2 separate regions of the Homo sapiens genome follow, and region 1 is linked to region 2. Evidence: fine-mapped expression QTL. A gene starts in region 2. The other region holds a variant in brackets. All regions are shown on one strand. Distances are from middle to middle. Region 1 overlaps NUP98 (nucleoporin 98 and 96 precursor). Region 2 holds the start of CHRNA10 (cholinergic receptor nicotinic alpha 10 subunit).

Evidence for each region. PIP is the estimated chance that this variant, and not a neighbour inherited with it, causes the effect. A credible set is the group of variants that fine-mapping cannot tell apart.
Region 1: its variant is the best candidate, but not a certain one, in a credible set for the expression of CHRNA10 in whole blood (INTERVAL, PIP 0.60).

What each region holds. Positions count from the first base shown.
Region 1 is chr11:3,745,742-3,758,281 of GRCh38, forward strand. It overlaps NUP98 (nucleoporin 98 and 96 precursor), which reads right to left. Exons shown (of 33, transcript NM_016320.5): 11 at 7,575-7,667. Among named protein-coding and RNA genes, the nearest start is that of NUP98, 46 kb to the right of the region's middle. The variant T/C (reference allele first, on the strand shown) is at 6,201.
Region 2 is chr11:3,667,616-3,679,685 of GRCh38, forward strand. It overlaps CHRNA10 (cholinergic receptor nicotinic alpha 10 subunit), which reads right to left and starts at 3,769. Exons shown (of 5, transcript NM_020402.4): 1 at 3,637-3,769; 2 at 2,181-2,326; 3 at 1,581-1,735; 4 at 1-149. The coding sequence starts at 3,697. NUP98 (nucleoporin 98 and 96 precursor) reads right to left here. Exons shown (of 33, transcript NM_016320.5): 31 at 11,939-12,070; 32 at 8,894-9,005; 33 at 7,404-8,761. The coding sequence ends at 8,544.

The sequences.
Region 1 (12,540 bases), 78 kb after region 2:
CATGCATGGCTTCTGAAGTTCTTTTTAACATATCAACTGCATCTTGAAACAAATACCGTTTACCAGGAAAATCACTTCAAAGATATAATACTTGCAGGTCAAAAATATTGTATGGGAACTGCTTTGAGATCACAATCAAAAAAGAACAGAAAGTTTATACCAAGACAACCCACACAATATAAATCAGTAAGGATGACTACTGAACAAATTACTGACTGTCCAACCTCATTAAAAATAAGACAACAGGGCCGGGCACGGTGCCTCACGCCTGTAATCCCAGCACTTTGGGAGGTCGAGGCGGGTGGATCACCTAAAGTTAGGAGTTCAAGACCAGCCTGACCAACATGGAGAAACCCTGTCTCTACTAAAAATACAAAAATTAGCTGGGTGTGGTGGCACATGCCTGTAACCCAGCTACTCGGGAGGCTGAGGCAGGAGAATCGCTTGAACCCGGGAGGTGGAGGTTGCGGTGAGCCAAGATCACGCCATTGCACTCCAGCCTGGGCAACAAGAGCAAAACTTTATCTCAAAAAAAAAAAAAAAAAAAAAAAAAGACAGCTTTGGGACAAAGAATAAGACTTCTTTTAAAGTTCTAAACCATTAGTAATTAACGCAAGCTCCAAGAAATACTAAAATTATATTACTTCATCAAAGGAAATAGTTTACAGCACAAACTACAGAATTGTTTATTTTCTGGTAGTCTAATACCTCCTTGCCTCCAAACAAAAACTTAGGTGAAACTCAAATATATAAAATAGATGAAAAATTCTACTCTAAATGTGTATTGCCCTCACCTTTACAGCATCCCTGGACGATGACCCATGAATCATTCTAAAATCACTGTACTGTATTTCAGTAATCCACAGAAGAATTAAAAAAAGGTACTGTGGGCTGGGCGCGGTGGCTCACGCCTGTAATCCTAGCACTGTGGGAAGCCGAGGAGGGCAGATCACCTGAGGTCAGGAGTTCGAGACCAGCCTGACAAACATGGAGAAACCCTGTCTCCACTAAAAATACAAAATTAGCTGGTCGTGGTGGCACATGCCTGTAATCCCAGCTACTCGGGAAGGCTGAAGCAGGAGAATCGCTTGAGCCCGGGAGGCGGAGGTTGCAGTGAGCCGAGATCATGCCATTGCACTCCAGCCTGGGCAAGAAGAGCAAAACGCAGTCTCAAAAAAAAAAAAAAAAAGTACTGTGAGGTTTGAGTTGTCTGTAAAGGGATTATCATAAAATGACTTGACTACTGACTATTGCAATGGAAAAATAGGTATTTTTATCCAGATCTGCCTTGTTTTATGCACAAATGGCTTTTTATGTTTAATGAAAGAAGTAATGGTCCACAATTTGAGAGACATTCTGAGTGTGATGTTGTGTGATACAATAAAGTTCTGGTAATTTGTCAAGATAGGAAAAATGTGCTATATTTATGATTAGCTGTAGCAGTTATAAAGAAGCTATATGGGGGGCAAAATGGTAATAGTGGCCTTAGAAACTCCAAAGAAAATCAAGAAAAAATTGAAAATGGTTATTTTCCTTTTGAGATATTCCAAAATTGTTAGAATTTAAATTTATCTGAGGCATCTATTAGCACCAGAAAGATTTTTCTATGTCTCTCTTAGTATTACAATCAACCTTCCTATATGTAGCCATTACTTCAAGGAAAACCTGTAGAACAAAGGTTTATTATTATTACTAAATAACCAAGGCAGTGGTGTGCAATTGATAGTGCTAATGATGTTAATATCACTATAAAACAAGAAATTGTTATGTCCATGAGTTAATGAATGTTTCTTAGTCTCAACACATGGGGCGGGAGAAAATCACATGCCAAGGGTCAGTATAAAACCTTTTATACTAAGATTGGTTTCTTACATCGAAGCATACAAAAATATCTTATGTATCTGTACATTTAATATTTGTGTAACAACTACTCATTAAGTACCCAAACGCCCACATTACAGGAGGCTTGAGTTTGAATCACCATCACTGAAAATAAGAAGCTGCAGAGAAACACCCACTTAGCTATTGCCTCCCAAAAATACAGCCTGAAGCTATAGTGCTAGTCTACCTGTTAAACCATGAAATGCAGAGTTCAGGAACGTGGGTGTTTATATGCAAGTCTCAGGAAATGTTCCTCCCAAACCCAAGGGCCTGCTTCAGCAGATGTGATCATCAGGGAATTGCAACAGTGTGTGTGCTTGCTGACTCACAATTCTCATTTCCCTACATGATATGCTGCTGCTAAGGTTGGGGGTGTAAAATTCTTAATTGATTGTATTCATCTTTTAGTTTATAGGAGAGGCATGTATAAGGAATATACAACAGCAACACAATGCAGTTTGTTTATTGTGAGAGAGAACTGTTGAAGAAAAACAGAATATATTAAAATAAAATGTTAGGATATTACATTATTGTGGAATGAGAGACAAAAGCATCAGAAAAAGAATTATAGAGTCTTGGAATATGGGGGAAGACATTGCTAATCATAACCTACAAGATCCAGGAGCCAAAGTAATTCTGATCACATAAAAATAAAACTTGTGGCTGGGCGCAGTGGCTCATGCCTGTAATCCCAGTACTTTGGAAGGCCGAGGCAGGAGGATCACGAGGTCAGGAGTTCCAGACTAGCCTGGCCAAAATGGTGAAACCCCATTTCTACTAAAAATACAAAAATTAGGTTGAGGCACAAGAATTGCTTGAGCCTGGGAGGCAGAGGTTGCAGTGAGCCGAGATCACACCACTACACTCCAGCCTGGGCAACAGAGCAAGAGTCCATCTTGGAAAAAAATAAAACTTGTGGCCCAGCACAGTGGCTTATGCCGGGAGGCTGAGGCAGGCAGATCACCTGAGGTCAGTCGTCCAAGACCAGCCTGGCCAACATGGTGAAACCCCATCTCTATTAAAATTACAAAAATTATTAACAACAAAAAAAGAAAAGCCTTCCTTAATTTGAATTTGAGCAAAAGAAAAAAAAGAAAAGAAAAGCCTTCCTTAATTTGCCCGTACCAAAGCTATTTTTTCCTACAGGGTTGGAAGAAACCATTATTTGATTTCAGATGATATATTCTGAATATGTTTAGGGATCACACTGTACAACAAAATGAGAGCTTTTGTTTTTATTTCTTGCAAAATTTATGTGGTAGAAGTTGGATAAGTTGAAAAGCTCAAATGAAATGCTTTCTGGGGTATAATGAGGAATTTTCATTAAAAAAAAAAAAACAATTATATAACCAAAAAGAGTTAATATCCACAATACACAAAGAATCCTTAAAAATAAATTAAGAGGGCCGGGCGCGGTGGCTCACGCCTGTAATCCCAGCACTTTGGGAGGCCGAGGCGGGTGGATCATGAGGTCAGGAGATCGAGACCATCCTGGCTAACAAGGTGAAACCCCGTCTCTACTAAAAATACAAAAAATTAGCCGGGCGCGGTGGCGGGCGCCTATAGTCCCAGCTACTCGGGAGGCTGAGGCAGGAGAATGGCGTGAACCCGGGAAGCGGAGCTTGCAGTGAGCCGAGATTGCACCACTGCAGTCCGCAGTCCGGCCTGGGCGACAGAGCGAGACTCCGTCTCAAAAAAAAAATAAATAAATAAATTAAGAGGCCGGGCACAGAGGCTCACGCCTGTAATCCCAGCACTTTGGGAGGCCGAGGCTGGTGGATCACTTGAGGTCAGGAGTTCGACACCAGCCTGGCCAACATGGTGAAACCCCATCTCTAACTAAAAAAATACAGTTAGCCGGGTGCAGTGGCACATGCCTGCAATCCCAGCTACATGGGAGGCTGAGGCAGGAGAATCACTTGAACCCAGGAGGCGGAGGTTGCCATGAGCTGAGATCACACCATTGTACTCCAGCCTGGCAACGAGAGAAACTCGGTCTCTAAATAAATAAATAAATAAAATATAAATTAACAAGAATCTCAAGTTAGTGGTAGGTGCAGAAAAAAAGAAACAATAATCCAACACTATGAACAGAGAACTGACTTAAATGGCAAATAAAAAAAAAAACAAAGATATTCACCTTTGCCAGTAATCAGTGAGGTGCAAACTGGAATGTACCAATTTCTACTGTCATGTATGAAAAGACAAAAAAGCCCAGTATGGAAAATACAGAAAAATGGGCATTGTATATAATGTGAGCAACACAAACTGGTATTTTTGAAAGGCAAATTAGCAAATTCAACCAAAATCTGAAATATGCGTATATTCCAACACTGCAATTCCAATTTGATGTATCAATCCTACAATAAACTAACACCTGCAAAATTATGTAACAAAAAATGTTCACTGAGGGTTTTGCCAACATCATCAAATAAATGTCCATCAATAGGTGAAATGTTAAATAATGGTATATGTATGATGTGTGTAAATTGTGTGTACTTAATGGAATACTAAATAATTTTTTTTAGGAATGAGACTTTTCTCTGGAGTGCAGCGGAATGATCACCGCTCACTGCAGTCTCAACTTCCAAAGCTCAGGTGATTCTCCCACCTCAGCCTCCCGAGTAGCTTGGACTACAGGCACATGCCACCAAGCCCAGCTAACTTTTTGCATTTTTAGTACAGAGAGGGTCTCCCTACATTGCCCAAGTAATCCGCCCACCTCAGCCTCCCAAAGACCTGGCATTACAGGCATGAGCCACCTCATCCAGCTCTAAATAGCGTTTTTCAAAATGAGATTGATATGTATGTACTGACCAAAAGAAAAACTGGTATTATGTGAAATGAAAATACAAGTCACAGAACACTATGTAAGACAGTGCTTTCAAACATTTTCAACTACAGCACATGCAATGAAAATCACTGAGATCCGAAACACATAAACACAAACACAACTGAGACAAAGTTTCATAAAAGGATACTAACCTTAACATTTTAAATGTTTTTTTTTTGTTTTTTGTTTTAGGACAGCGTCTCATTCTGTTACCCAGGCTGGAGTGCAGTGGTACTATCGTAACCCACTGCAGCATCTACCTCCCAGGCTGAAGCGATCCTCCCACAGCACATCTCATTCAGCTGCTTGAGTAGCTAGGACTACAGGCACATGCCACCATGCATATCTATTTTATTTTATTTTTTTGATAGCATCTTACTATGTTGCTCAAGATGATGTTAAACTCCTGACGTCAAGCAATCCTCCTGCCTAGGCCTCCCAAAGTGCTGGGATTAGAAGCATAACCCATTAGGCCCAGCCTACTGATTTTTAATTCTACTTCATTTTCTTCAAATGCTGATTGCAGGCAACTATATTAATTATAACCAACTAATGCACCTCAGTCTCTGGCTTAAAAGTCACTCATACAGGGTGTAGTTTCCATTTAAAAATATAATCCCAGGCCGGGCACGATGGCTCACACCTGTAATCCCAGCACTTTGGGAGGCCGAGGCGGGCAGATCACCTGAGGTCAGGGGTTTGAGACCAGCCTGACCAACATGGAGAAACCCCGTCTCTCCTAAAAATACAAAATTAGCTGGGCATGTGGGCACATGCCAGTAATCCCAGCTACTCGGGAGGCTGAGGCAGGAGAATAGCTTGAAACCAGGAGGCGGAGGCTGCGGTGAGCCGAGATTGTGCCATTGCACTCCAGCCTGGGTAACAAGAGCAAAACTCCGACTCAAAAAACAAACAAGAATATAATCCTAAACCCTAAATATAAAAGACATGTATGTACAGACGTGTGTGTGTGTAAACATGTCCGAAAAATGCACAGAAACGGGTCTGACAAGATACATGCCAAACAACCCTAATCATTTCACAGCTGAAAAAGACTGGACTTTTCATGAAATTTCTGAATTGTTAAAAACTTTTTACCAGCACTTACATCTTTTATCTTAAGCAGAGAGCACTGACTCATGCCTATATTCCCAGCACTTTAAGAGCTCAAGGCAGGAGGATGGCTTCAGCCCAGGGGTTCGAGACCAGCCTGGGCAAAACAGGTCGACCTCATCTCTCCAAAATATTAAAAAACTAGCCAAGCATGGTGGCTTGCACCTGTTGTCCCAGTTACTAGGGAGGCTGAGGTGGGAGGATGGTTTGAGCCTGGGAGGTAGAGGTTGCAGTGAGCTGTGATCATGCCAATGCACTCCACCCTGGGTAACAGAGCAAGAACCTGTCTCAAAATAAAACACCTTTTATCTTAAAAAGAAGACTGAAGGCTGGGCGCGGTGGCTCATGTCTGTAATCCCAGCACTTAGGGAGG[T/C]TGAGGTGGGAGGATCACGACGTCAGGAGTTCGAGACCAGCCTGGCCAACATGGGGAAACCCTGTCTCTACTAAAAATACAAAAATTAGCTGGGTACGGTGGCGTGCGACTGTAGTCCCAGCTACTCGGGAAGTGGAGGTTGCAGTGAGCCGAGATTATGCCACTGCACTCCAGCCTGGGGGACGGAGCAAGACTCCATCTCAAAAAAAAAAAAGGGAAATTGAAAAAAATAAAAATAAAAACCACAAAAGCAGATCATAGTACAAAATGAGGTTCCATTAAGAAGGAAATGACAGCCAGGCACGGTGGCTCACACCTGTAATCCCAGCACTTTGGAGGCCAAGGAGGGAGGATCACCTGAGGTCAGGAGTTCAAGACCAGCCTGACCAACATAGTGACACCCCATCTCTACTAAAAATACAATAATTAGCCAAGGATGGTGATACACACCTGTAATCCCAGCTACTAGGAAGGCTGAGGGAGGAGAATTGCTTCAACCTGGGAGGCAGAGATTGCAGTGAGCTGAGACTGCACCACTGCACTCCAGCCTGAACGACAGAGTGAGACTCCATCTCCAAAATAAATAAATAAATAAATAAATAAATAAAAAAGAAGGAAATGACAGATGAATGCTCAGATGATAGAAGGGGAAAAAAAAAACAGATTAACTGGACAGTGGAAGCAGACTATGGAAATGGTTTGCAACTAAATGACCACACCTGCAGTCAAACGAATTGAAAAAGTAGGCAAAACTCTATGTTTAACTAAACAACCTAGTTTTACTGTACATGCTAAAACACTTATATATTTTATGACCATCATCACGCTCCAGCTGTTTAAAAACAGCTGGGCAGGTAGAAGGGTCAGTATCTTCAAAGGCACTGAAAAATAGTTGTTAACAGTAGGAATCAGGGAAAAGGGGTGACACTGGTCTATATGACAATGGAACTAAATGAAATTCTCCTTGCAAAGGAGAATTACATCAGCATGTGCTCTTATTGCTCTGCCTTTCTATTAGGGCTTACTTTGATGAACAGTTTAAGGTCTCAAATCCCTGTTACAAAAGTAACATGGGGAAACTGAAAGTTAATGTCCTCATGACAATTCTCACATTAAATACTAAAAATCCCAAAAAGACCAGGACTATCAGAGGACATTTTGTAGAAAAGGGAGCATACAGCTTCTAACACAAACATGCCAATATTTTAAAGCCTGGTAAAGCATAACTGCTGGGAATGTCTTATAAACGCAACTGGAAAAACGAAAAGGTAGACTTCTTAATTCCAGTAACATAATCAAACAGATCTCTCAAGTTCCAGAAACTAGAAAGTCAAGCTGTGTCACTTCCTAGATCTCATGGTAGCAGTTTCTTACCTGTTCCAAATCCTGCACCAAGCCCAGTTCCAAGAGTCCCAGGTGCTGGTTTACTTCCAAAAATACTATTCCCACTGGTATTTGTGCCAAAACCTAGGAAGACAAAAGAATGAGTGGATTGTACTTTTAATATAACTCTCAATTTCCTCTATAAGGGAGTTTAACACAAAGCAGTCTGACTTTAAGTTGTGAACCTTTCAGTTAATATTTAGGACTCCTAACTTGTAGGATAACTTAAAAAAAAAATTTCACATATGCAAACAAGTCTTCATATTTACTTAATTACATTTCAGCCTTGAAATATCAATTCAAAGGCCATGCGCGGTGGCTCACGCCTGTAATCCCAGCACTTTGGGAGGCCGAGGCTGACAGATCACCTGAAGTCAGGAGTTCAAAACAAGCCTGGCCAAGATGGTGAAACCCCGTCTCTATAAAAATACAAAAAAAAAAAAAAAAAAAAAAAAAAAAAAAAAAAAGGCCAGGTATGACGGTGCGTGCCTGTAATCCCAGCTACTCGGGAGGCTAAGGTGGGAAAATCGTTTCAACCCAGGAGGCAAAGGTTGCAGTGAGCCTAGATTGCGCCACTGCACTCCAGCCTGGGCAACAGAGCAGGACTCTGTCTCGAAAACAAATAAAAATAAATAAATAAATAAAATAAAATAAAGAAATATCAATTCAATATAGGATAATATCAATATTCAAGCAAAGTGAACACACTTGAGCTTTGGGAACATTGCCTTTGTAAGGCCCAAAGCTTTCAATGCAAGTTTCAAGTTTATTTAGAAGAGAAATTAATTCCCCCTAACTTGTACTAAAAAAAATGAAACAACTGGCCAGGTGTGGTGGCTTACGCCTGTAATCCCAACACTTTGGGAGGCCAAGGTGGGCGGATCATGAGGTCAAGAGTTCGAGAACAGCCTGGGGAACATGGTGAAACTCTGTCTCTACAAAATATACAAAATTAGCCGGGCATGATGGCGCATGCCTATAAACCCAGCTACTTGGGAGGCTGAGGCAGGAGTATCACTTGAACCCGGGAGACGGGGGTTGCAGTGAGCCAAGATCGTGCCACTGCACTCTAGCATGGATAGAGTGAGACTCTGTTTCAAAAAAAATACAAAATAAAATAAAAATAAAACAATCAACAAAGACACTTTAACTGAACCTAAAGGTCCTTGCTAAGAAAAAAATTACTTACAAAACTTTCCACAGTAGCTTTTATTTTGAATAGATGAACCTAGCCAGGATAGTAACGTGTAGCTGATTACACGTGAGAAGTCTTCTTCACTATGACCCACCATTTAAACAAAATCCTATAATTTCCCTTTAAAATCCACAGGTATCAGCCAGGCACGGTGGCTCACAACTGTAATCCCAGCACTCTGGGAGGCCAAGGTGGGCAGGTCACTGGAGTTCACAAGTTCAACGCCAGTCTGGCCAACATGGAGAAACCCCACCTCTACTAAAAATACACAAATTAGCTGGGTGTGGTGGTGCACACCCAGAATCCCAACCACTTGGGAGGCTGAAGCAGGAGAATTGCTTAAACCCGGGAGGCAGAGGCTGCAGTAAGTCGAGATCGCACCACTGCACTCCAGCCTAGACGACATAGCGAGACACTATCTCAAAAAAAAAAAAAAAAAAAAAAATCCATAGGTATCAAACAAAGATCCTATTCTGTACTGCTGCCATTACTTTTCTTTTCTTCATCTATGCCCACAGTTTCATTATTCTTTTTGTAAATAAATATCAACAAAACAATTAATGAATATGTCATTAATTTCTCATGAGAGAAAAGAAATCATTAGCCAGAAAACCCTGTTTGCAGAACATATGAAGTCATTTAAAAGTCATAAAGCACTGGGCATGATGGCTCACGCCTGTAATCCCAACACATTGGGAGGCAGAGGCAGGTGGATCACTTGAGGAAAGGAGTTTAAGACTAGCCTGGCCAACATGTGAAACCTCTTCTCTACTACCACGAAAAAAAAAAAAAAAATTAGCTGGCTGTGGTGGTGCACGCTTGGAATCCCAGCAATTTGGGAGGCTGACGCAGGAAGATCGCTTGAACCAAGGAGGCAGAGGGTTACAGTGAGCTGAGATCACACCACTGCACTCCAGCCTGGGCAACAGAGCAAGACTCCGTCTCCAAAAGAAAAAAAAAATCATGGAGGAAAAAGTAGCCCAAAAAGATAACAAACAGAATAAAGAGACTATTTTAGAACAGATGAAAGTATCACTAATATTATACTTTGTTGTGCCAGTATTTGGATTATTATCTCAATGAAAAAAATCAAGAAGAAAGCTGAAGAATATAAAAGTTTAAAAACAATCGTATTTCATGTCATTTTAAAATTCAAGCAAGCAGGCCGGGCGCAGTGGCTCACGCCTGTAATCCCGCCACTTTGGGAGGCCAAGGCAGGTGGATCACAAGGTCAGGTGTTCAAGACCAGCCTGGCCAAGATGGTGAAACCCCATATCTACCAAAAAATACAAAAATTAGCCGGGTGTGGTGGCAGGCGCCTATAATCCCAACTACTTGGGAGGCTGAGGCAGAGAGCTGCTTGAACCTGGGAGGCGAAGGTTGCAGTGAGCCAAAATCACGCCACTGCACTCCAGCCTGGGTGACAGAGAAAGACTCCATCTCGAAAAAAATAAATACATGAAATAAAATCCAATCAAGTAACCTGACTTAATCGCAATATATTTGACTTAGACATTCATTGAATCTCTTCTTTAATTCTTCTAATAGCTATGCCACAAAAATGGGGTGCTGCCTACTCAAGCATCATCAATTTTCCTTGATGAAAACACAAAAAATGTACTTGGAGATATTCTTTTCCTTTTTGAATAAAAATTTAATCAAAAGGGATCTTACAGTCCCATAAGCAGCAGAAAACAAGACACTCGTGAACTATCTCAAACCCACAGAAGGGAAATAAATCCCAACTTACACTGTTTATACCACACATTTCCTCCGATTCTCACTGACAAGTTTATCGACTTGTAAAATTCAATTTTACAAATTACAATTAAAAAGACAATTCAAATTCGGCACACAAGTTGGTGAGACAACTCAGATAAAGATGACACCTTTCATTTTCATATCACTGAAGATGACTGTAAATATATTCGCACACCAAAAAAAAACCTCTAAGCAAATCAGAAATCTGCAACCATCACTGCAACTTCTGCCTCCTGGGTTCAAGTGATTCTTCTGCCTCAGCCTCCCGAGTAGCTGGGATTACAGGCATGCACCACCATGCCCAGCTAATTTTTGTGTTTTTAGTAGAAATGGGGTTTTACCATGCTGGCCAGTCTATCTCGAACTCCTGACCTCAGGTGATCTGCCAGCCTCGGTCTCCCAAAGTGCTGGGATTACAGGCGTGAATCACCACACTCGGCTTGTTTTTGTTTTTTGGGGAGACATCATATATATCTTAATATACATCACATATAACATCAAATATATCTTTAAAAAAATTTTGTCGGCTGGGCGCAGTGGCTCACGCCTGTAATCCCAACCTTTTGGGAGGCCGAGGTGAGCGGATCACGAGGTCAGGAGATCGAGACCATCCCGGCTAACATGGTGAAACCCCGTCTCTATTAAGAATACAAAAAAATTAGCCAGACGTGGCAGCATGCGCCTACAGTCCCAGCTACTTGGGAGGCTGAGGCAGTAGAATGGTGTGAACCCGGGAAGCGGAGCTTGCAGCAAACCGAGATCGTGCCGCTGCACTCCAGCCCGGGCGACAGAGCGAGACTCCATCTCAAAAAAAAAATATATATATATATCTATATATCTATATCTATATCTATATGTGTATATATATATATTTTATCAAGTGTAGCCTATACAAACACCCTTATAGTGTTCAGATAAAAATAACGGGCTGGGCGCAGTGGCTCATGCCTGTAATCCCAGCACTTTGGGAAGCCAAGACAGGCAGATCACCTGAGCTCAGGAGTTCGAGGCCAGCCTGGGTGACATGGCAAACCCTGTCTCTACAAAAACACAAAAATTAGCCAGGTGTGGTGGTGCATGCCTGTAGTCCCAGCTACTCAGGAGGCTGAGGTGGGAGGATCACTTGAGCCCAGGAGGCGGAGGTTGCAGTGAGCTGAGATCACACCACTACACTCGAGCCTGGGAGACAGAGATCCTGTCTCCCCAAAAAACAAACAAAACAAAACAAAACAAAAATGCCGAGCGTGGTGGTTCACACCTGTAATCCCAGCACTTTGGGAGACCGAGGCTGGCAGATCACCTGAGGTCAGGAGTTCCAGACTAGACTGGCCAACATGGTAAAACCCTGTTTCTACTAAAAATACAAAAATTAGCTGGGCGTGGTGGTGCATGCCTGTAATCCCAGCTACTTGGGAGGCTGAGGCAGAAGAATCGCTTGAACCCAGGAGGCAGAGGTTGCAGTGAGCTGAAATCGCGCCACTGTACTCCAGCCTGGGTGACAAGAGCGAAACTCCGTCTCAAAAAGAAAGAAAAGAAATAATATTTAATTTTGAACATGAAGCATGCTACAAAAAAAAGAGCTTTATTAAAAACACACATTTTCAAAGGGAGTGGAAATTGGTTCTTGAGGGACTAAAATATCACAGATTATGATAGTTTGTGGCCCTCCAGAGAGTCACACAACATAAGCAGATACACAGTATATGCGTGGTATGAAAATCTCAGGGGAAGGGAGATGATGATTAAGAAAAAACAGGCCAGGCGTGGTGGCTCACGCCTGTAATCCCAGCACTTTGGGAGGCCAATGCCGGCAGACCATGAGGTCACAACATCGAGACCATCCTGGCTAACATGGAGAAACCCCGTCTCTACTAAAAATACAAAGAAAAAATTAGCCGGGGGTGGTGGTGGGTGCCCGTAGTCCCAGCTACTCGGGAGGCTGAGGCAGGAGAATGGCGTGAACCCAGGAGGCAGGGCTTGCAGTGAGCCCATATCTGGCCA
Region 2 (12,070 bases):
TCAGGCCGCAGTGCTGGGCGTCGAACGGGAAGGCTGCTACATCCACGCGGCACGAGCTGCGCGTGATGGCCGGCGCGTCCCAGCGCACGGCGCCATCGTGGCGCAGGACCACGTTGGTGCTGGCGGAACCTGGAGGCTGCGCGTCGGCTCTGGGGGCAGGCGGGGCAGGGCTCACCTAGGCTGTCCAGCCTGAGGAGCAGCCCCGGAGGCCGGGAGCCCAGGGCAGACCCCCAGGGGCTGAAAGAAACCAAAACTTCTCCCCAGAATATTGAGGCTCGTTAAGTTCGAGACACTCACGACGCAGGGGAGCACCTGGCCCCAGCGTCTGCTGGCCTGATGGCAGGACATCAGCCCTTCCTTGCTGGAGTCAGCACTTGCTTATCCAAAGGGCACCAGTAGGTGCCAGAGGAATCTGGAAACAGATTTTACCCTCTTTCCACGTTTTCCCGCCTTTTAAAGGTGGCTGTCCTTTGTCTTGCCACTATTTATAACTTACTGGCTCTTTCTTGAATTTCTATTTAAGCAAGGCCCCTAAGTCACTGCCTTCAGAGAGAAATACTTTTGAACTAAGGCCTCTCCCATGATGGGTACAGCAGATTAATAAACTTCTGCTTGTGGCTGGGTGCGGTGGCTCACGCCTGTGATCCCAGCACTTTGGGAGGCCGAGGTGGGCGGATCACGAGGTCAGGAGATCGAGACCACCCTGGCTAACACGGTGAAACCTCGTCTGTACTAAAAATACAAAAAACTAGCTGGGCGTGGTGGCGGGTGCCTGCAGTCCCAGTTATTTGGGAGGTTGAGGCAGGAGAATTGCGTGAACCCGGGAGGCGGAGCTTGCAGTGAGCCGAGATAGCGCCACTGCACTCCAGCCTGGGCGACAGAGCGAGACTGTGTCTCAAATAAATAAATAAACTTGTGCTTGTTTTTTTTTCGTTAATTTGATTCTTGTTTTCAGAACAAAGCAACACAGAGGGTGGAGTGCACCTAGAGAGACCCGCTGCCTTTCGAGGCCTGGAAGGGGTGGTGCCTGAAGGGCCCAGAAGGGACACAGACGTAGCCAGAGGATGTATAAAAAGGCCTCTGCAGAACCCAGAGGTAGCTCCGGGACACACAGTGACTTCCCTTGGGGGACATCTGCAAAACTTGTAGAAGGGCCCCAGAGAAAATATGCAGAGCTATGTGCTGGCTGGGAGACACGGAACTGGTCAAGGAGACATAAAGCAGTGTTCCAGAGGGCTATGTCCTGGAGGAAAGAGACCCTTACACAGGCTCTTCGGGGAGCCCTGAGAGACTTAGAGCTAAAAGTGTGCCCTAGAGAGGCCCTTGTGATTCAGACAACTGCCCTGGACCACACAGTAGGTTCCGAGGAGACGTTCAGCCTGGGCTGGCCTGGGATAGCCTAAAGTGGGGGTGCCATGGAGGGGCTGAGTGCCTGGCAGCTTAGAAGGGTCCTGGGGAAAAGCTTCCAGGGCAGCGTGGCAACCAGGTTATGTGGTAGGGAGAGGGGATCACTACACCCCCACAGCTAAGGGCAAGTCTAGAGAGGGGTAAGAGAGAGGAGGGGCCCAGATAGGCAGTACTTGTTATAGAGTACGATGTCTGGCCGCCACACAAGACTGCTGGGGATGCGGATGGCATCCAGGCCACCATAGGCATTGGGGTCCCATCGTAGGTAGGCATCTGTCCACTCCTGCCGTATCCACAGATACAGGGTCAGCACCTGGTTCCGTTCATCCTAGTGGGGGCAGGGAATGGCAGAGATGTGGACATGTATATGCATATCCTGCCCTGTCTGTGCACACTCCCCTGCAGGGCTCTGGTCAGCACCCACAAACCTGACTTGTCCATACCGTCCAGTTCCCACCCAGACCTGACCTTGCCATGTGACCTTAGTGGGCTCTTCTCTTTTCTGCCCCTGTTTCCTCAGCAGGAATATGGGGTGAGAATCCCTGCTTAGCAGGGATTCAGTAAGTTCAGGTGAACAAAATATTGGGCACGAGGTAGGCACCCAATACTCAGTACCCAACAGTCAGTACCCAACAGTTTGTAACTGCTACCTTTGTTAATATTAACATTTACAGAAAAGAAATTCCATGGAGAATAATCCCAGTCTCTCACCCCTTCATTTCTTGACACTGTGACAGGTAAGACTCCACAGCTGTACCACCACCACAACGCACCATGTCGATGATCTGGGACAGTGTCACCTCCAGGGTCACATTCAGAGTCTGGTCTGTGTCTGCCACAGGTCTCAGGGCACTTGTGTAGTTGGCAAAGAGGTCACGGAACAGCTTGAGAGCCAGCCGGCCCTCAGCTCCCAGGCACTCTGGAGGGTCAGTAAGGAGGGTTGTCCATCCCAGGCCCTAGTCCCAGGGCCTCTGCTCACACCCTCCACTCCCAGGGCTGGGGCCCTGTCCTTATGAGTGTCCTCCTGGTGTCTGCCTTCTCTTGCTCTAGCTGTGGCTCTAGTTCCTCCCTGGCCTGCCTGCAGGGACACATGAGGTAAAGGCCATGGAGTGAACTGGTACTATCTTCTGGCGCCAGGCTGACAAATTTCTCCTCCACCCTCCCCTTTTCAAGGACCTGGAGTCTGCCTGCCTCTCCACAAATGCTAGAGGGGCCCAAATAAGCCACAAGAGTCCAGACTTTCACCCAGGGATTCTAAACCCCACTGCTCTGCCCCCTCCAGTATCTCTCAAACCTGTTTCCACTTCTCCATCTCGAGCTGGTTTCTTCAAAACTTCTGATGCGATGGAACACTCCCTCACTCTGAAAACACACTTCCCCAGGCTTTACTGACACAAATTTTCCTCAATCCCTGACCTAAACATTGTTCCCATGAATCCTGTCCTTGGCTCCCATCTTTTTCTTCATCCCAGATTTTTCTCCTGAGCTCCAGACCCCAATAGAGTACAGTCCACTCCTGAGTTTCCCACAGGCACCTTCAACTCTGAGGGTCCAAAATATGAACTCGCTTCCTCCCTCCATGCTCTGAAACCTGCTTCCTATCCCATGTTCCCTATCTCAGCAAATAGCATGCCCTCAGCTTCAACAGTGACCTTAGTTGGAAATCTGGGAATTATCCCTCCCTTCTCCCTCTGCTGCCTCCTCCTCGGGGAATCCAGTTAATCTCCAGATCCTGTCAGATCATTCAAATCCTCCAGATTTTGCGAAACATCGTCTTGAGTCTACCCTCTCCCCTCCAGGTCAGGGCCCTCCCTTCACTGTCTCCCTTTCCCCAAAGGCTCACCTTCTTCTACCCCTCCCATGCCCCAGGACCACGCTTTTAAGCATGCACATCTGACCAGGCTAGTATGCTGCTGAAACCTTTCAGTGCTCCCCGTCATCTGCAGGAGAAAGACCTGGCCTGGCCGGCAGGCCCTTCAACATCTGGCCCCTCTGATTTTCCCAGCCCTGTCTCTGGAAGCTCCCCGCTCACTGTTTCCACCCTAGCCAGGCAAGTCTCCTCTCACGCACTTCAGCACCCCTCTCCTCCACACTCCCCAAATAGAGAGCTTGTTCTCAGAACAGGTACTGAGGAGAAACACAAGAGAGACTACATGGAAAGGGATTTTGGGAGAACAGGAATAGTAGCACCACCAGGAGAGGCCAGGGCTGGTGTACTGAGCTTCATACCTGCAGGGAGTAGAAACAGAAGCAGAAGGCCCAGGCTGAGGTGGTGGCTCCGGAGCCCCATGGCCCTGGCACTGCAAGAGCGGGGGCAGGTCTCTGGATGTGAGGCCTCCTGGCCAGACCTAGGGCAAAATTAGGCCCAGCTGGCAAGGATGGTGTGGACAGTACCTAGAAGTCAGAAGTAAGACAGATCTCTGGTGGGTCCAGCCACCCTCCAGCGAGCCCTGCAGCCCCTCCAGTCTTCTGACCCTCCAATTTGTGCCTGCCCCTGGATTTTAGTACTTGGTCTTTCTTCTTCTCTGCTGGTCCTTGCCTCTTCTGGCCTCTGCCTCTGCCCTTTCCTATGCTCCCCACCTGCTTTGTCTTTCACTCTGTTTCTGCTTCCTTCTCTTTCCGTCTGTAACTTTCTTGGTCTCTCTGCCTCCCTGACTCTGATCATCCCCTGCCTGCCTCTTTCCACTCTCTCTCCCTTTCTCCTACTTCTGTTTCATCCCTCATTCCTTCCTTCTTCCATTCCCCACACCTGGACTCTAGATGGGCCTGCTGCTCTCTCAGCAGAACAGGGACCAGGGACTCCTCCCTTGATCAGCCCAGAGTCGTCCGAGGCACAGGACCACAGCCCCTCCCTCTCTGCCCTTTCATTAGCTTAATTACACCGTGCCTATGACAACAGAGCAACGGAAACTGATACCTCGGGCCTCTGGGGCTTGAATTATTCAAACTCTGTAAAGCAGCACACAGACTCAGCTCAGGCCCATCCTCGGGTGTTGGAGAGTACAGGTATGCTGGGTCAGGGTATGTGGAAGACCAGGGCTTAAGAGTGTGAGGGGCCAGGGTCAGTGGATGGATAACTGTCCTCTCATCTTAGCCACCATTGCCTGAATTCTGGAGGTGGAGGTTTGCCTTAGACCTGCAGCTCTCCTTGCAGTGCGGGACTAGACACTCCAGGCTAGGCACTTTGGGTCAAGCAAGCCCTTCCCTCCTGGTGGGAGTAGTGCTGAGCCTCAGGCCACTCCAGATGACCCAGTGGAGCAGAAGATGGAGCCCACATCCTCTCCTCAGACTCCCTGCAGTCATTCCCATCTGAGCCTGTTTTTTCACCTTGCCCAAACACTGTGGGCAGTGTGGGAGAAGAGGGCAAGCATTCAGTCACTTTCGGCCCTGTCTTATGAGCGCTCTCACTTGGGTAAGATATTTAAACTCTCTGGGTTTCTGTTCTCTCAATCTGGTAATGGGATTAACAGTACTCATCTTGAAAACTGCAAGGATTTAAATGAGATAACCTGATAGTGCAAGGCACTGTCTAGCACGGTGCCTAAGGTACAGCAGGTCATCAACAATATTTACACTGTGGTCCCAGTAAGGTAGCCAGGCTATCCTCAGGTCACAGGTATTTATCATGCACAGAGTTTTGATTATTTTTGTTCAAGCTGACCAGTTGCCTGACCAACAGCAGCACATACTTCCCTGGCAATCACATCCATAGCCATGACTTTGGGCATCGTGGATATGCCAGTGATTCCCTGCACTTTCTCCACCCGTCCCCTCTCCCAGGTACTCTGCTTATCTCCAACCACCTTCCTAACACACAAGCGTTTCACATCATTTCAAATTGAAATCCAACATTCACTTATTCAAGCTAGTAGAGGGGAACTGTCCTTAACTTGTTAAAGAACAACTACCAAAATACCCTACAGCCATCCTGCCACCTCAGCCTCCTGAATAGCTGGAACTAAAGGTGCACACCACCCAGCTAATTTTTGTTCATTTTTTAAGAGACAAGGTCTCCCTATGTTGCCTAGGCTGGTCTTAAACTCCTGGGCTCAAGGGATTCTCCCTCCTCAGCCTCCCGAGGTGCTGGGATTACAGGCGTGAGCCATCGTGCCCAACCAATACAAGGTTTAACAAATCCTTAGGAAAGCCTAAGAAATGAACATTTAAAGCAGAAATTAAGATTATACAGAACTCCAGTAAAATTGATTAATACGTCTAAGGACTGGTTATTTGAATAACAAAAAATCTGGAACAATTTTCTGGAAATACAAATTAACAAAACTGAGCTAAAGATGAAACATCTAAAAAGAGCAGATACTCTGCAGGCCTTTGCTTAATTATTCCAATATTTAATTCTCCAGACCTCTGTTAACTTTGGGTTCTGTTGAGAAAATAAGTTATTTGAATGTTGTAGATTCCACAGATCTATCGAATGTTGAGGTAACTGGTTCCTGTTTTATGTTTTTGAGAATTTTTTTTGAAATTAAAACATTTTTTACTATTTCAACGGGATTTTGGGATGTGGAAGAGATTGTTCAGGCCTGGCGCGGTGGCTCACGTCTGTAATCCCAGCACTTTGGGAGGCCAAGGCAGGCTTATCACGAGGTCAGGAGATCGAGACCATCCTGGCTAACACGGTGAAACCCCGTCTCTACTGAAAATACAAAAAAAAATTAGTCGGGCATGGTGGCGGGTGCCTGTGGTCCTAGCTACTTGGGAGGCTGAGGAAGGAGAATGGCATGAACCCGGGAGGTGGAGCTTGCAGATCGTGCCCCACTGCACTCCAGCCTGGGGGACAGAGCGAGACTCTGTCTCAAAAAAAAAAAAAAAAAAGAAGAGATTGTTCATCACCCTTATCTTGAACTGGAAGTTGATATTCTCTTTTATGCACAACATGGCTTCTATGATAAACCTTTGATTGAGAACCTTTTTTTTCTTGCTCTGTTGCCCAGGCTGGAGTGCAGTGGCACAATCATGGCTCGCTGCAGCCTTCAGCTCCTAGGCTCAAGCGATCCTCTTGCTTAGGCCTCTTGAGTAGCTGGGACTATGCACACACACCACCATGCCCAACTAATTTTATTTTTTTTTAGAGACAGAGTCTTGTCATGTAGCCTGGGGTGGTCTTGAACTCCTGGCCTCAAACGATCCTCCCACCTTGGTCTCCCAAAGTGCTGGGATTACAGGTGTGAGCCACCACTCCTGGCCCACAATTCCGAACACTGCTAAGAGCTAACCATTTCTATAGCATACTCACTTTCTGAAACATTCCTCTGGTAAGGAAACCAGGTCAGGTGTTCTTTGCTGGAAGTCCAACTATGTTTTGTGACTCACTCAGGTTCACATAGTGAGTCAGTAGTGGAGGGGATTCCAGCTGAGTAACCCCTATCCTGAGGCATCTAAGTTAAATGGAAGTTCCAGACAACAGAGCTGACCCACTCTGCTTTCTCATCCCTGAATTCCTGAAAGTCTCAGAAGTCTTTGGTCTAATCTTAATTGGAATTTGCTCACATCTTCAGCTTGACAGATCAAAATAAGATCTGGAATAGTACTCATGCTACTCAATTGATTCCTCTTGAAAATAGCCCTGTGTGAAGTAACATCAGCAATCATTATCCCCTTTACAAAAGGGAATCTGATTTAGAAAGGTGAAGCGTCACTCAGGGTTTAAAAACAAAACCACTATAGTAGAAGAGCGAGGAGGCTTTGAATGGTATATTCTATTGGGCAATTTGAGACCCGGGAATCTATGTGCATAAATATATGTACAGCAATCAGTATTAATCAATAATCAACTCCCTTGCCCCTAAATTTCCCCTTATAAATCTAGCCTTTGGGCTAATCTATCTTTCAGTTTAGCACCCAATTGTTCTCTTTAGCCCATGGCCTGTCTCCATTTAGAAGGCAAATTCAAAAACAGGCTAAATCAAACAAGGCCACCATAAAGATCCTCAGGGTAAGAAGGCTCAAAAATACAAAGGGAAAGCCAATACCAGGAATGCTATAAACATTTTATTTATTTTTTAAGAAAGTAGCTTCAGAAAAAGAGGAAAATATCTAGATCATTTATTTATACATATATATATTTTTTAATAAAAACCTTTACATTATCTTCATGCATAAAGACCCAGGTGTGGCCATATTGCCTGAGATAGCCCTAACACCAGCTATCTCATGCCATTACCTGGGGCTCCCTATAGCTGTCAGCAGTGTAGCAAAGGCCCTCTGCCTGCCCCTAACGCCCAACTCCATGCCTGCCTCAGTCATGGTTTGTTTTTGCTTCTGGAAGGGGTAGATGGAGGGTGGGAAATGCTTTGGAGCTAACATGGGATGAACAGGGAGGGTTACCCAACCTGCCATTTTTTATCCAAACTCTGCAGGCAAATCCAGACAGAGTCTCAGCAAGACTGAAAACCAGGGACCAAACCAAACTCTGGGAGCTTCCCACAGACATGTCACATGTGACCAAGGGTTCCTGCACATAGTAGTAGCAAAGGTATGGTGTTCATGGAACTCTAAAGGCAGGAACAAAAACAGCCCTGAAGATCAATCCCTCCGTGACAGGCATTCACTTCTGCCCTAAGTGTGTCAGAAAGATCCCATTTTGTTTCCTAACTCAGGCCAACCCTCCTTTGCCTCCAAAATTCAGTGTTAACTAACCAATTACTTAAGAGACGGATCCCTCTTCCTTCTGTGGATAGTTCATCTGTTAAGGATCCATTATCACCTGTCTCACTCCTCCTAAGGAGTCCTAGTATAAAAGGGCCAGGGTAGGAGTAGGGAAGCTGGTTGGCATGGAGGGTCACAAGATCCAGAATGGCTAGGGATGGAAAAAGAATACCCTGGTTCTTTGGGGGATTCTGCCAAAGGAGCTTTATTGACCATTTTTTTAAAGGAAAAACACTGAATGATCTTGAGGATGGTAAACTGTCTCCTCTTCTGGGTTCCAGAAGCCCTTATGCTACGTTCAGTATTAAGAAAAGCCCTGAACAAGTGGAGGATGCTGCTTCTGGCAGCAGGGAGGGAGGGTAGATGCCACAGCCAACCCAGAGAATGGCAAACAGTGCCAATCCAAACAAGGCAGGGAACCTCTGTGTGGTGTGAATGGGCATGTGACTGTGATGCAAAGTGCCTGGGGCTCACAGGCTCCCAACAGCCAGTTCTCGCAGATAGGACTGGGTAAGGCTGCGCAGTTCGTCCATGGCATAGTCCTCAGGCATGGGAAGCCGGCCAATGTGGGGAGCCAAGAGGCGCAAAGGGACTCGCTGAGGGTCTGGTGTTGAGTCGGAGGTTCTATCAGGAGGATGATGCAGACTCAGCACCACGCGCAGCAGGTTGGCTACACGTTTGGCCATGTCTAGAGAGAAAAACTAGAGTCAAGCACTGAGCATGGGGTCTGGAGAAGGGTGGTAGGCACTGAGGGTGGGGTGTAATAATCATAAAAACAGGAAGCAAGAAGGCAGAAAGAGTGAGGAGGTTAGAGGCTTACCTGACTGAGCCAGGCGATCTTTAGCACTGTAACACTGAATCTGCTCTATCCGACTGCACAGTGAAGTCACTTTGATGTGTAACTGCTCCAGGTCATTACCTGAGCAATCCACCTACAAAGAAGCAGAGAAGCCAATTAATCCAAGGGGAGTTCCTATCACTCCAATCCCACCTATAGACTCTACACAAAACCTTGAAACAACAGTGAGGTGAGGGAGGGGAAAATCCAAGATGATGACACAGGGCCAAGCCACCACCATCTAGTGGAGGACAAGGCACTAATTATGCAGTAATAGCCAAGAGGAAGGTAACACAGTTACCTAGCCTTGGACTAGGAAAAGTCTTGAGATCCCGAACTATACAGCAAGCTTTAATAACACAGCACCAAAAATCAAGATAAATTGGGTTCAGAGAGATGGTATGACTTCTAAAGAGCACACAAGGAAGTAAAAAATGCAGCCAGAACCAACATTTAATTTAGGTCCCCTGACTCCAAGTTTATAGCCTTTTCTAAAACACCAAAAAAGCTGTGTGCAGGGGGCAGGAGGATCAAGAGCAAGACAGGTTATTTGCTCTCATGAAACTGATAGAAAATAAATAAGAAAACACAAAACAGTAATAAATCCTGAAAAATCACAAGCCATGTAGATAATTTAAACAGGTGGATGTGGCAGAGAGAAACTGGATAGCTACTTGAGACTGGAGGACCAAGAGAGGCTTCTTTAAGGAGGTCATATTTAAATTGAGACCTGAATAACAAGGAGAGAGCTCAGCTTTCCAGGCAAAGAGAAGACAGCTAAAACCCCCAAAGGTGGGAATTCAAAGGAGATTTACATGGTGACATGTAGGGTAAGGAGAAGAAGCAGAACAAGATAATACTAGAGAGTTTTTATGTAACATAGGTTTTTTTTTTTTTTTTTTGGGAGAAGGGGGGTCTCGTTATGTTGCTCAGGCTGGTCTCAAGCAATCCTCCTGCCTCAGCCTCCCAAAGTACTAGGATTACAGTCATGCACCACCACATCCAGCTATGTGCTGGCACATTGATAGTACCCTTTGCTTAATCCCTATACTTATCAAGCTATAGTAATTGCTGCTTTACTTGTATGTATCTCCCCCACAAAATCATTATTTTGGTAAGGGCAGAACACATACTGTTTACCTTTATATTCCCCAAACCCACTACAGTGCTTGGCATACAGTGAGTTCTCCATAATAGGTTGTGTGAATGAATTACTCAATATTCAATGAGAAAGTGGTTTCTTCAAGTGATTATTTAGAAATGATGTTCTTGATTCATACTAAAAGTACAGCAAACATTGAATTATGTCTATTATGTGCCAGGCACTGTACTAGGAGTTGGAACTTTGATGAGGATAATAATAGATAACAATTATTAAGCATTTAGTAGAGGCCGAGGTCAGGAGTTTGAGACCAGCCTGGCCAACATGGTGAAACCCCGTCTCTACTAAAATACACACACACACACACAAAGCTGGGTGTGGTGGCACACGCCTGTAATCCCAGCTACTGGGGAGGCTGAGGCAGGAGAATTGTTTGAAGCTGGGAGATGCAGTGAGCTGAGATTGTGCCACTGCCCTCCAGCCTGGGTGACAGAGTAAAACTCTGCCTAAAAAAAAAAAAAAAAAGGCATTTAGTACATGAAAGGTACTATGTAAAACACTTCATGTAGATTTTGTTTAATCTTTGTGAAAATCTGTCAATATGAACTATAATCTGTACTACTGTCTACCCCACCCACCTTTTTCTTTCAGACGAGAGAGGTAGTTAACTTGCTCAAGATTACATAGCCAGTGAATTTGGAAGCCACAAATTGAATCTATAAGTCTGCTTCCAGAACTTGAGCTGTTAACCTCTACACTCTATTGCCTGTAACCGTAAAAGACCTTCCCAAAAGGGGCTTATAGCAACCTGAAAATATGAATAAGTAACTACAATATGGTCTGACAGGTGCACTAGTAGAATAATGTACTAAGTATCTTGGTAGTAAGAAAGTGCAATTAATTATCTCTGGGGAAAAGCAGAGAGAAGTAGGGGTAACAGCAACCTAGATCTTAAAAGGATGAGTTTAAGTGTGCTAGGTAGTGTGGAACATAATATGGTTTGTTAGAAACACCAGAAGTAATTTAGTGTGAGTACAGCAGGCTAGCAAGGCTGGAACGTGGAATAAGAGTGGTAGGAGTAAGGCAGGAAAGGTAAAAGCCTCTAAAAGGACTTGAATCCTATATTTATTATAATGAGTTTGGTTTTTGCACCATAAGCAAGCAGTGGAGACTCATTTTACGACTACAAAGACTGACCTTAAGGCTGCGTGCAGGCGTGCGGTAAGCTCATGCCTGTAATCCCAGCAATTTGGGAGGCCAAGGTGGGCCGATCACTTGAGGCCAGGAATTCAAGACCAGCCTGGCCAATGTGGTGAAACACTATCTCTACTAAAAATACAAAAGTTAGCTGCGTGTGGTGGCACACACCCTATACTCCCAGCTACTTGGGAGGCTGGGGCATGAGACTCACTTAAGACTGGGAGGCAGAGGTTGCAGTGAGCCACGATCACACCACTGCACTCCAGCCTGGATGACAGAGCAAGACTCTGTTCCAAAAAAAAAAAAAAAAAAAAAACTGACCGAAGACATTGACTTTAAAACCCATATTTGCAATTTTAAAACATGCCAAATGATGTGTAAAACAGCTATCCTCACCCTCACCAAATCTCCATTCTTATTTTATCTCTCATCTTTGGGCTTCTCACTCAAACTAGGACTGAACAAGGGGAAGAGACTGTCTATGGACAAGCCTCAGGAATGTCTATTGCACATACTAGTTGGTAATCAACATAAAATAGCATTTTTAAGTTTCGATATAGCTGTCAGAAACGGTTATATCAAATGAGCCTCAGCAAGATGCCTGCTTTGACAGTGCTATCTCTGTCAGTGCATTCTCAAGTGTATACTAAGGCCTTGTGAGGTATCTGAAGATTTAAGGGCCTGAGAAAAGGAAAATCAGGCAGCAGTTTCAGGATCTCAGGTACCTGCTGTATATGGCGGAGCATTTCAATGACTCTAATATAGTCCAGGTAAACAAGCCCAGATGTTTCCCAATCCTGAATTAGGCTGCTGCGCTCTGGAGGTGCCAGGTCTTCCAAGAACCCCTTCAGGTAGTC